Linked DNA regions of Homo sapiens. The protein of the gene in region 3 purifies or fractionates together with the protein of the main gene of each other region. This does not show direct contact. Each region holds a gene or a part of one and is shown on either strand. Other genes may lie near its edges. The genes, in order: CAP1, ARB2A and STYX.

Region 1 (3,755 bases), on a different chromosome or scaffold from region 3:
ACTGAAAAATCCTTCCTATTTCACATCAGCAAAATAAAACAAACAGCAACCAAAAAAACACCTTTCTTTTCTCAAAAATTGGAGACAGGAGTAAAGGCAAAGGCCTAAATTTCTGCTGAAAATTCTCAAGGTATTTACTCCTTTAGATTAAAGCTATCTCTCAAATGCCAGATACCATGACCCATTAATAAATAATTAAATCAATTTAGTGAGCTTAATGGAACAAAAGTATGAGTGCAGTGCACCAACTTCAAGTTATTTCCAAATAAAAAGTTAAAAAAAAAAAAAGTACAGCAGAAGTAGTATAAATATCATCTTGTGAAACTTTTATCTCAGTTACGAATATGTTCTTTCTTTCTAAGGGTCATTCGCAGTCAAAAGAATTTAAGAAACATGAGACTGTAAGCACTATTAAAATACAAAAATTCAAAGAAAGCAATCTATTTTTTCTGGATTTGCATTTTTAAAATACAAATGATAAATGTTTTAAAGTTTTTTCAAATGTTACAGAACTGTATTAAGTAAAAATGCAAGCCTCCACACCCTTATTAAAGTCCCAGTCCCACTCTCTAGAGCTAAAACCATTGGCAACAGATGGTATTTGAGAGGCTCAAAATAGATTTTCCAAAAGCCAAGCAACCAGTCTTCGAGAAAGGTTTAGGTGAAGAAGTTCCCAAGCATGGTTACTGTTTATAATTCGGTGAGCTAGCAGGAAGGTTTTTGGGTCCCAAAAATAGAGGTAGAATGTATATGTGAGTGTGGGGTGGGGGTGGGGGGTGGTGGTGATGACGTAGGAGGCATAAAGGAAGGTGGGAGGAAAGGCACCTGTCATTGCCTACTTCATATTCTTGCTGTGGGTTAAGTGTGAAAATAACCCACATTAGCATAACTAATAACTATCAAGCATAGTTTTATAAATGCTAAGTCATGATAATGACTCCTTTAAATAAGCCACTGTAGGTTTGATTATGTAATATGTTGGGATCAAACTGGTGCATATTCTTCACTACAAAGATGAACAGAACCATATTTTATGTACCAAGCAAGCTTTCTGTATAAATACGTGATAAAAGCAAGGGGCCTAGAAAAAAATGAGGAATCGTTTCTGTGGCTAGACTGAACTCCTCAGTACAGGCAAAAGAGAAAGAACATGTGTAATGCCCCAAACCAAGAGGAACTTCTCAAGGAGCTCTTAAACCAAGGATGAGGACCTTGGCTGACTGAAGAAAGCTGTTAGTCCTTAAAAGAAGGGGAAAAAGGCAAAACATCCTTACATGTTTCTGCACGTCTCCCCCAATCTCTTTACTGATCTTCAAGTACTCTGCCACAGGACCAGCAAGCAGCGAGTCAAATGCCTGCACATATGGAGCTGCTCCTGCTAAAGACAAACACACCACAAAGAATCAGCCATGCATCAGAAGGAGGCTTCTTTAAAACGTGCTTCTACATGAAAGTGGGGAGGCAAGGTAATACAGTCAACAGGATACAGAACAGGAGTAAGGAAACCTGGGTTCCAGGTCCAGTATCACCACTAACTGGTTGTGTGACCCTGACTAAATTCCTTTTCCTCTCTGAGCTTAATTTTCTTTATCTATAAAATGAAAATAAACAAAATGATCCTCCAAGGTTTTTTTTAGTGCTAACATTCTATGTTCCAACTGGTGCATGTGCAAAATGTCCAATTTGCCAATTGTTTGGAGAGAGGAATTTTATTATCACTTGTCATTTGACTTACATTGGAGTCATTCTGCTAAAGAAAGAGCAGGAAATATTGCACAAGCAGGAAGTTCTTGTGTTAAAATAACTTAACCACAGGCCTCCCTGTACAAGTCATTTCCTCTCTTATCTGTTCACAGCAATACAAATTACAAAAGGTAAACTTTCTAGATTAAGTTTTGGGAAGTTAGCGCCAAAGGAGAGAATAATAGAAAATTTTCAGGCCAAGACGCTCAAAGAAAGCATTCTGCTGGGCTGTGGACTGCTTACCTTTTGAAGGACTGTCTGCATACCCACGGTGCATGTCAGAGGTATGAGATACTGCCTCCAGGCGGCCCACTGCCCTCTCCAATCTTTCTACCAGATTTTGCATGTCAGCCATAATGGACCACCTGCTGAAACAGATCAAATGTCATTTGTTATTTAAATATTAAATAGCACCTACAGAGAAAAAAACAGAAAATTCCTGGTCATCCCCAGGTGGATGAAGAGGATGCCAATTCTCAGGAACAGAATAATTTAATAAAATTAGATATCATCTGCAAAATGGAACAATACAAAAATATCAGATAAAAAAGTAGCATATTTACAAAATCAAAAGACCTCATTAAGCAAGAGAACTGCTCAGGAAAAGGTGTTCACTAAAGTAAATGCTTACTCATTCAAATACTCAATATTTACTATGATACTGTGTGTAGAAAGTTAGAATTTGCAAAGGATAGTCACATACATTATCTCAGTTTGAGCCTCCCGACAACTATTCAGGAATAGAAGGATGATTACTACACGCTTAGAGATAGAAAACTTAGTTTCAGTGAAGCTAAATGACTTGTCTAGTCACACGGCCAGTGAATAGAGAAGCCAGTACTCCATCATATCCTTATCTGATCCTTCTGGTTCTAAGTTCAGTGTGTTTTTTTCCTACAACATCCTGCTGCCTGCATGTGAAATATCCCAAACCAAGATGAATAGGATGTTTACTCTTCCCTCAATAATTTTTTTTTTTTCAGACAAAGTCTTACAATGTCACCCAGGCTGGAGTGCAGTGGCAGGATCTCAGCTCACTGCAAGCTCCACCCTGTTGGGTTCAAGGGATTCTCCTGCCTCCCAAGTAGCTAGGGTTATAGGTGTGCGCCACCATGCCCAGCTAATTTTTTGTAGTTTTAGTAGCGACAGGGTTTCACTGTGTTGGCTAGGATGGTCTTGAACTCTTGACCTCAAGTAATCCACCCGCCTTGGCCTCCCAAAGTGCTAGGATTACAGGCGTGAGCCACTGTGCCCGGCCTGCCCTCAGTAATTTATAGTCTAATGGGGAGACTTAACATATGCACTAACAACTATGAAACAAATAGAAAAAAATGTTAAGGTGACATAAGAAAGTTGCTGATAGAGAGGCATGAGATTTCAAAGAGGGGAGTAATATATCAGCTGGAAGGATCAGATAAGGATATGATGGAGAAGCTGCCATTTGAGCCAGCCTTCAAATGAAGATGAGAAAGATCTGGACATGCAGTAGGGAAGGACACTAGACACATCCAAAAGAATTTGTTATAGATCTTTCACAAGTACTATCTTATCTGAAATAGCCTAATTCAATGTCTAATATCCCAAAGAAAGTAAGCTCCAACAGAGAAAGGACCTTATATAGCTTGTTCCTTACTGTATACTCTACCATCTAGACTACTACCTGGCAGGTAGTAGATGTTCAATAAATATTTATGAAGTTATAAACCTCACAAATAGCATTCCAAAACTCCAGAGGGATAAGGGTGCTAAAAGTTGCCCATAAGTCACACATAAGTGTAAAATATGATCAATGCACCTCTACATAAAGTATTTGAGACCCTAAGTGATCTCATAAAAACCAGTCAGTGAAATTTCAATCCAAGCTTTGACTTGGAAAGATTCCATTTCACAAAAGCGTCAATTCAGGCAACTGAATTCAGTTCAGGTAACTGAAGCTGAATGAACTCAACTCCCTTGAAGCTGCCTAAAATGACAACAGCAATTATGATTCCCCCAAAGATGACAGCATGCCA
Region 2 (3,755 bases), on a different chromosome or scaffold from region 3:
TGTTTTTTTTTAAAATGTGATTCCCTTTTCCCTCTTTTTTCTTTTTTGAGACAGAGTCTCACTCTGTTGCACAAGCTAAGTGCTGTGGTGCAGTCATGGCTTAGTGCAGCCTTGACTTCCTGGCCTCAAGCAATTCTCCAGCCTCAGCTTGCCAAGTAGCTGGGACTACAGGTGCACACCACCACACCTAGCTAATTTTTGATTATTTGTAGAGACAGGGTCTCACTATGTTGCCCAGGTTGGTTTCGAACTCCTGGACTCAAGTGGTCCTTTATCGAGCAGCATTTTAATATAAAAAATACATTTTTATCATCTGAAAATAAGTTTCTTTCAGTTCTAAGTGATTACTGTGGACTTCAAAGTGCCAGTATTCCATTGCTTAAAAAATTGACTGAGTTTCTTGGTAACAGGGGACTTAGTCAAATAGGAAAAAAGAGACAGTGATCAGCACCTACTGGAATATCTGTACTACAGGTTTTTTCATGAAGGTGAATAGATATCCATCTCCATAGCCATTCCAGGATCCATTAAGGCCTCACTGACCTTAAGAGACACTTTTCTTTGTGCGTGTTTAGACATAGTGTTTGGTAATTGAGTGACTAGAAACCCCTGTGGCCTCTTTCTTGTTATACACTGACAGCTCTGCCTTTCAATTTTTTTATTTTGTTCTTATCATCATTACTTTTTTTTTAGGCTTCTTTAACTGAGCAATTCTCCTATTTTTATATAATGTTCCTAGGTAAAAGGGAATTTTTCTTCTTAGGTTTGGTTTTCCTGTGTCTGTCATCCACTTATCTTTCTGTGTGGCTGTAGTCATATTTATTGTCATCATTATACTTTGTTTACTCTGGACATAGCATGCAGGTGAAGCTAATATGATTGTGTTACACTTCATATCTCTCTTCCTGTATTTTTAGCTATTGCTAATAAAATTATAGTTATGTCATTTTAATTCTTTAACATTGTATAGCTCTTGTAAAATTCTCTATAATTATGTACTAGTTTAATCTTCAGTATATGCTTTCTGAACCAGGCAAGTATTATAACCATTTTAGAGGATCCATTATTTAGTTAAATGTCTTTTATCTAAAGGAAGTCACTGGTGAGGCTTGATAAGATTCCTCATTCCAAAAGTTTATTGTTTTTAATTACTGAGTGCCTACAATGTGCTAGGTTTTATTTTAGGTACTGAGACTATATAAGTGGATACAAACGAGAGAACTCTGTGCCTGCCTGGACTTACGTTCTAGTGGAGGGAGCAGGCCGTGAATAAACACATTTGCAAAAATGTAGAGTAAAGCATACAATATGTTAGATCTTGGTATGTGCCGTGGAGGAAAATAAAACAGGGAAGGGGACTATGGAATTCTCGGGACATGTTTGGAATTTTAAAAGTGGTAGTCAGGGAAGGCTTCAATGAAAAGGTGTTATTTCTTCTTTAAGACCTGTGTCCATGCTGCTCTTGCTGAAATAATTGCCATTTTTGCTGTGTTTGCACAAATGCCTAAGCCATCTCTTACTGAAACTAGCCTGATTGTTTTAGAAGTACAGATATTTTATTTTATTTTATTTTATTTTATTTTTCTCTTCCTAAGCGTAATGACTGGGAGTATTTAGAATCCAGGGCTTTTTTTGGGGGGGGGGGGGGCATCTAGAGTTTTTGTATACTTCCTATTTTGATAATTGTATGAACATATACAGTTGACAAAGTGAAGAGCTATTACGTTACACAATATGTGGATTGACCTTCTTTATGTAAGAGTACCAGCCACCAGAATGTCAACTTTCTGCTTGATCTGGCTATTGAAAGGCTTCCATTTCCAGTCACTCGCCAGTGCTGATGTGGTATACCACTCAGTGTGTCATGGCATATGTAACAAAAGGTTGGGAAGTTATCTCTTTCTAAAAGTGTTTTGTGTCTTTCAAATGTAAATCATACATCATATAGTTAACAATCTAAATATTAAGTACAATCAAAATGGATAAAAATATTTACTTTTTATTCTGTAAGTAACTAGTTTATAAAGTAAGTTCATTGGAGTACATAATGTGGCTTTGTAAAAATAATTGTTATATAATCCTGTGTTCACAATCTGAATGAAATTTGGAAGTCCATTTACATAGATCAGGTAAGAATAGAATAGATGGTTAGTTTTTAAATAGTTTCCTCTTCTTCCCCTTAAAAGTTTAGTGGTATTCCTGGCTGATATATGATTTTCCAATACGTCTATCTCCAATTTTAGTTTTCTATTTTTTATTATAGGTGCAATATATTTCTGTTATACAACTATAGACTTATAGTTGTGTGACCGTGGGCAACTTATTTAAACTCCCTAAGCCTCAATTTCTTCATCTATAAATCAATATAATAATAGTACCACCTAAATGGGTTGTTATTGAATGAGATAATGTTTTTACAACAGGTAGCATAGCAGCTAGACTATAGGAGGCACTAAAAAAGTAGTTATTTTTATTTACAATGATAATATAATACTAAATATACAATAATAATGAAGAGAAACATATTACCAATATTTTTTGTATTTTTATATTTAAATTACTATCATGTCTTGTCCCATCCAACTAATATATAATTGTTAACCTCTACTGAATATTTTAATTTTGTGTTAAAATTGTTTTTTACTTCTATAATTCTATAGTAACCATTTAATACTTTGTAACAGCCATTAGTTGTTTTTTCATTTATGTGTATGCCTGATCAGAAGACATTTATTTATTATTTAATTTTATTTAATTACAGGTAGATGCCACTGAGAGTGAACCAAAGAGTTTTATCTTTATGAGTGAGGATGCTTTGACAAATCCACAGAAACTGATGGTTTTAATTCATGGTAGTGGTGTTGTCAGGGCAGGGCAGTGGGCTAGAAGACTTATTATAAATGAAGATCTGGACAGTGGCACACAGATACCGTTTATTAAAAGAGCTGTGGCTGTAAGTACAATTTCCTGGGTTTTTTTTTTTGGCATTTTATAGTACTGTTTTATTATATGTTTTTATGTTTCTTCAAAAAGTATATCCTAAGCATAATCTTATCTTTGGGTTGTTATTATTTATTTTACTTGTATGAAAGATTATTCTGCATTATTTTGCAGTTACAAAGAAACACAAAGTGGCATCTTGAGCATACAAAGATTTAAATAATGTCTTTTGAGTGAATTATTTTTCTAAAATATTTTTAATCCTGTGAAATATGACAGGGTTAATATTTTCTAAAAATATTTTTAATCCTGTGAAATATCAATTATCAAACTATCAAATATTTATCAACATTATTGAAAATAACTTCTGACAAAAATATCATGACTGCTTTTGTAAACCTTTGCCTACCTAATTTGGTAAAGTTAGAAACTAAAGGAGATCTGCTACTTTGAATTAATCTCATATTATTTAAAGGAAGAGTTGGAATAACTAAATTTTTTTGTCGTTTCTTTAAAATGTTTTTTAGAGCCCACAAATAAAATGCTTTAAGCATGAGACATAGACATACAGAATGGCAAAATGTAATGTTTAATGAATACTTTATTCTTATTTGCATTCAAACTTTTTAGAAACTCCTATTTTTAAATTGTGTTCAAGGTTTCTTTTCTTGCAATAGTGAAATGTTTTTCTGACATAATATTGGCATATTTTAATGTTTGACTGCTTTTGTTTTACTATTGCATTCATAAGTTCCATAGTGAACAGCCCAATTTTGCAAAGTGTGAATTTCTTTCACATGAGTAGATTTTTTTTT
Region 3 (3,755 bases):
ATCAAAGGAGAAAAGAAAATGTTTCACTCAAATAAAAAGAGAAGGTGGGCAGGGACTGGAGGGGCAGAAGAGTACTCAAGTAAGATATTTTCTAAACCAGCAATTTTTAAACCTGACTGAACATTAGAATCATCTAGCTTCATTCAGATAAATTAAACTACAATAGGTGCTGGTAGGGTCCACGCATCAGTATTTTTAAAAAATTCCTTACTCTAGAGTAAGGGTTAAAAAGCACCATTCTAAATAAAGGAGCTAGAAAAGGAATCCTCAGCCATGTATGTTAAATAATTCCTATCTTTGATCCTGTACTACGGGATTCACAAGAAAAATGGAAAGGGAAACATGGAAAGTTGCTAAACTGCAATGGAAATAAATATTTCACTTTCTGTCAGAAGAGAAGATAAAACATTAACTTTTAAATTATAAAACCAATAGCCCCAGCTACAACCAATTTGCTTAAAAATTGGTACTATCAGCTACTCCTTCTTCCTAATATCTAAGCTCTCTTATGAAAGGTTCAGTCTAAATGGAAAATAGACAATGACCAAAAATTGTTAAATGTTACAAAGGTAAGTATTAAAGTACCAAGTGCCATAGTAGCTGGGGAATTGAACCAGTCTAGAGGATGAGGAAAGGAGTTAGAGAAACTGGCAAACAGGAAAAGCTTCTCTGAAGAAATGTTGCCTAAAGTGGGATCTAACCCAAGGGTAAGCAGTTAATTAGGTGAGGGTAAGGAAGGTGCTGGCAGCCAAGGCAGGGGAAAATAGCAAACATAAAGGCTCTGAAGGCGGGGGGTGGAAATTAAAGCATTCCAGGAACTGAGAGAAGATAAATATGGCTAGGGCTTACAGAGAAAGGAGCAAGAAGAGTAGCTCATAATGAGGTTAGAGAGGTATGCAGATGTCAGACCATACAGGACCCTGGAAATAATGTCAAGGGTTTAAATTTCATCTTCAAAACAATGGAAATTCATGAAAAAGTTTTAAACAAAAAAAGTAACAATCTTTTCACAAACTGACTGATCTAAATTTTTGTTAGCACTGTCCTATACAAAGAATACCAATATTTCAAGAAACGTGAAAGTAATATTCTTGTAGAGGTGACAGAATCATCAACCTATCATAGCTTGATCACATTAACATTAAAAGCATTCCCTGAACTCTCTGCTTGAATTCAGTTTTTATTAAATTTGGTCTGTAATTTGGATTTCCAGGTAGTGCTCCCTGTGTCAAAGAAACAATGCTGGCTGATCACTCTAACTACTTAAGACCATTTGACACTTTACATTATCTCACTGGAGATTAGAAAATTAACAGTGCTTATTAGTCAGTTTATTATGAATAACTATATGCTCCTATTTAATAGTTTATTTATGTGGCCCCTATGTATAGTTTTATCAGCCCAGAAAGTACCCTCTACCTGTGGAAATGTTCCTATGGTTTTGGTGGGAGGGCTACCAACAATAAACTTCACTCCTCTAGCCAAGGAATTAGGGATATGACCTAGATGGGGCCCCTCATTGTATCTGCCCTTTCCTGGCTACAGTGACTGATCCAAAGTGTGGGAACATGAATTAAATTGGGCAATTCCTCTAGATTTCAAACACAGAAGCTGGAAGTGTTCAGTTTTATTCCTCAATAACCAAGCTCATAAAGGTGTGACCCCAGATGGCCAAGCTTCACATCTTGGAGAAGCCAGAGAGAAAGCAGAGACTCCGAGAGAAAGTAGAGATAAGAACTCATGAGAGACAAAGGCAGTTCTGATGCTTTATAATACCTGGGTTTGGTCAAATCCTTGAAACTAGCTGCACCACTACCCTTCTGGATTTAATTACTTTTTTTTTTTTTGAGATGGAGTCTCGCTCTGTCTCCCAGGCTGGAGTGCAGTGGCTAGATCTCGGCTCACTGCAAGCTCCGCCTCCCGGGTTCATGCCATTCTCCTGCCTCAGCCTCCCAAGTAGCTGGGACTACAGGCGCCCGCCACCATACCTGGCTAATTTTTTTTTAAGTAGAGACGGGGTTTTACCGTGTTAGCCAGGATGGTCTTGATCTCCTGACCTCGTGATCCGTCCGCCTCGGCCTCCCAAAGTGCTGGGATTACAGGCGTGAGCCACCACGCCCGGCCGGATTTAATTACTTCTTCTTTTTCTTAAATTCGTTTTTGTTGCTTGCAACCAAAAGATACCAAACATGCAATATTAAGAAATACGGAACGAATTGGCTTTCAGCAGACAATACTTGCATCATTATCCACTAGCTTTAACCATTACCTCTGTCCCTGTGATATAATATGAAATACATGGTCTTTCTCTCCAGTTCCTGTCACAGTCCTCCTAAAACTCTTGGAATTTTCTAATAGGAGTGTCTTTGGTTATTTATGAGCCACTATTTTTGATCAAACCTGATTATGCTAATGAAGTGATTTAGGGTGGGGCCAGTCACCAGAAAGACCATGTGACAAGAGGGTTGAACTCTCAGCCTCACACACACACACACCTCTATGGGAGGGGATGGAGATGAAGTTCTATAAAAACCGTTGAATAAGATTTGTTGAGCTTCTGGATGAAAACACTGGAGGTGCTAGTGAGGCAGGTGAATAGGGTCTGGAGGCAGGGAATCTAAGGCTGTTTCACCCCGACTTCCCAGAACTAACTTGAAGGGAAAACCCTAACTTTCCACGCCTAAGTAACAAAAGGACCAGAGGCTACTCCCGTTGCAAACCACCTACCTTTTCTGCACAGTAGACGGGAAATTGGCTGTCCTCAACAAATCAGACTGACTGCGGGTGGAATCTTCGTTTGCAACTTTGTAACTTCACTCTAGCCACTGAATGGTCGCTGTCCACAACCAAGCGGACTGATGTGGGGGTGGGTCTGGCAACCAATCAGACCAATTGCAAGCCACCTCTTCATTTACATGAGGTGAGCATGGAATGGCCAATGGGAAAGTTCTAGGGGGTATTTGGACCCAAGAAGATTCGGTAAAGCAGCGGGGGTCGGGGGGGAGTGCTGCTAGGGCAGCTCCCACACTGTGGAGTGTACTTTTGTTTTCAATAAATCCCTGCTTTTGTTCTTTTGTTGCTTCATTCTTTCTTTGCTTGGAGTTTTGTCCAATTCTTTGTTCAAAACGCCAAGAACCTGGACAGCTTGCAATCATGACTCTACTGGTGACACTGGGATGGTGGTGTGCCCCTTCCCCCATACCTTGCCCTATTCATCTCTTCCTACTGGCTGTTCACTGATCTTTTGTAGTATCCTTTATAATAAACCCGTAAATGTACTTCCCTGAGTCCTGTAAGTCACTCTAGCAAGTTAACTGAACCAAGGAGGGAGTAACGGGAACCCTGATTTACAGTCAGTCAGGAGTGTATAGGTGACAACCTACTACTTGTGATTACCATCTGAGGTTGGGGGCAGCCTTGCGGGACTGAGCCATTAACCTGTGGGATCTGACTAACTTCAGGTACATATGTGTCAGAATTGAATTATGGGACATTCAGTTCATGCCTGCTGGAAAACTGCTTGGTATGGAAAAACCCCCACACATCTGGTAGCATAAAAAAAAGAGTGTGTTTTCAAGTCCCACACAGAAAAGACAGGTATATATTCCCAGCAAGAATTTATCAGTTTTGCAGGAATAAGGCATACATAATGATATACACAGTAACAGATTAAATGCAAAGTCCGGGAAAATTTTAAACTAGAATTTTTAAGATTAGGGCAGGGAAGAATTGAAGTGTATTAAAAAGAACAATGA

Evidence for each region.
Region 1: the proteins of STYX (region 3) and CAP1 purify together in Homo sapiens (affinity purification with mass spectrometry; 2 studies listed by BioGRID and IntAct, with this or other methods). This does not show direct contact.
Region 2: the proteins of STYX (region 3) and ARB2A purify together in Homo sapiens (affinity purification with mass spectrometry; 2 studies listed by BioGRID and IntAct, with this or other methods). This does not show direct contact.

What each region holds. Positions count from the first base shown.
Region 1 is NC_000001.11:40,057,690-40,061,444, reverse strand, and holds part of CAP1 (adenylyl cyclase-associated protein 1), read right to left. Parts: intron 2,112-3,755; exon of another isoform or gene 2,109-2,111; 5' UTR 2,099-2,108; coding exon 1,987-2,098; intron 1,379-1,986; coding exon 1,275-1,378; intron 1-1,274. UniProt on the Homo sapiens protein: Directly regulates filament dynamics and has been implicated in a number of complex developmental and morphological processes, including mRNA localization and the establishment of cell polarity.
Region 2 is NC_000005.10:93,957,975-93,961,729, reverse strand, and holds part of ARB2A (cotranscriptional regulator ARB2A isoform 1 precursor), read left to right. Parts: intron 1-2,761; coding exon 2,762-2,953; intron 2,954-3,755. UniProt on the Homo sapiens protein: Plays a role in the regulation of alternative splicing, by interacting with AGO2 and CHD7. Seems to be required for stabilizing protein-protein interactions at the chromatin-spliceosome interface. May have hydrolase activity.
Region 3 is NC_000014.9:52,733,149-52,736,903, reverse strand, and holds part of STYX (serine/threonine/tyrosine-interacting protein), read right to left. Parts: intron 2,060-3,755; exon of another isoform or gene 2,026-2,059; intron 1-2,025. UniProt on the Homo sapiens protein: Catalytically inactive phosphatase. Acts as a nuclear anchor for MAPK1/MAPK3 (ERK1/ERK2). Modulates cell-fate decisions and cell migration by spatiotemporal regulation of MAPK1/MAPK3 (ERK1/ERK2).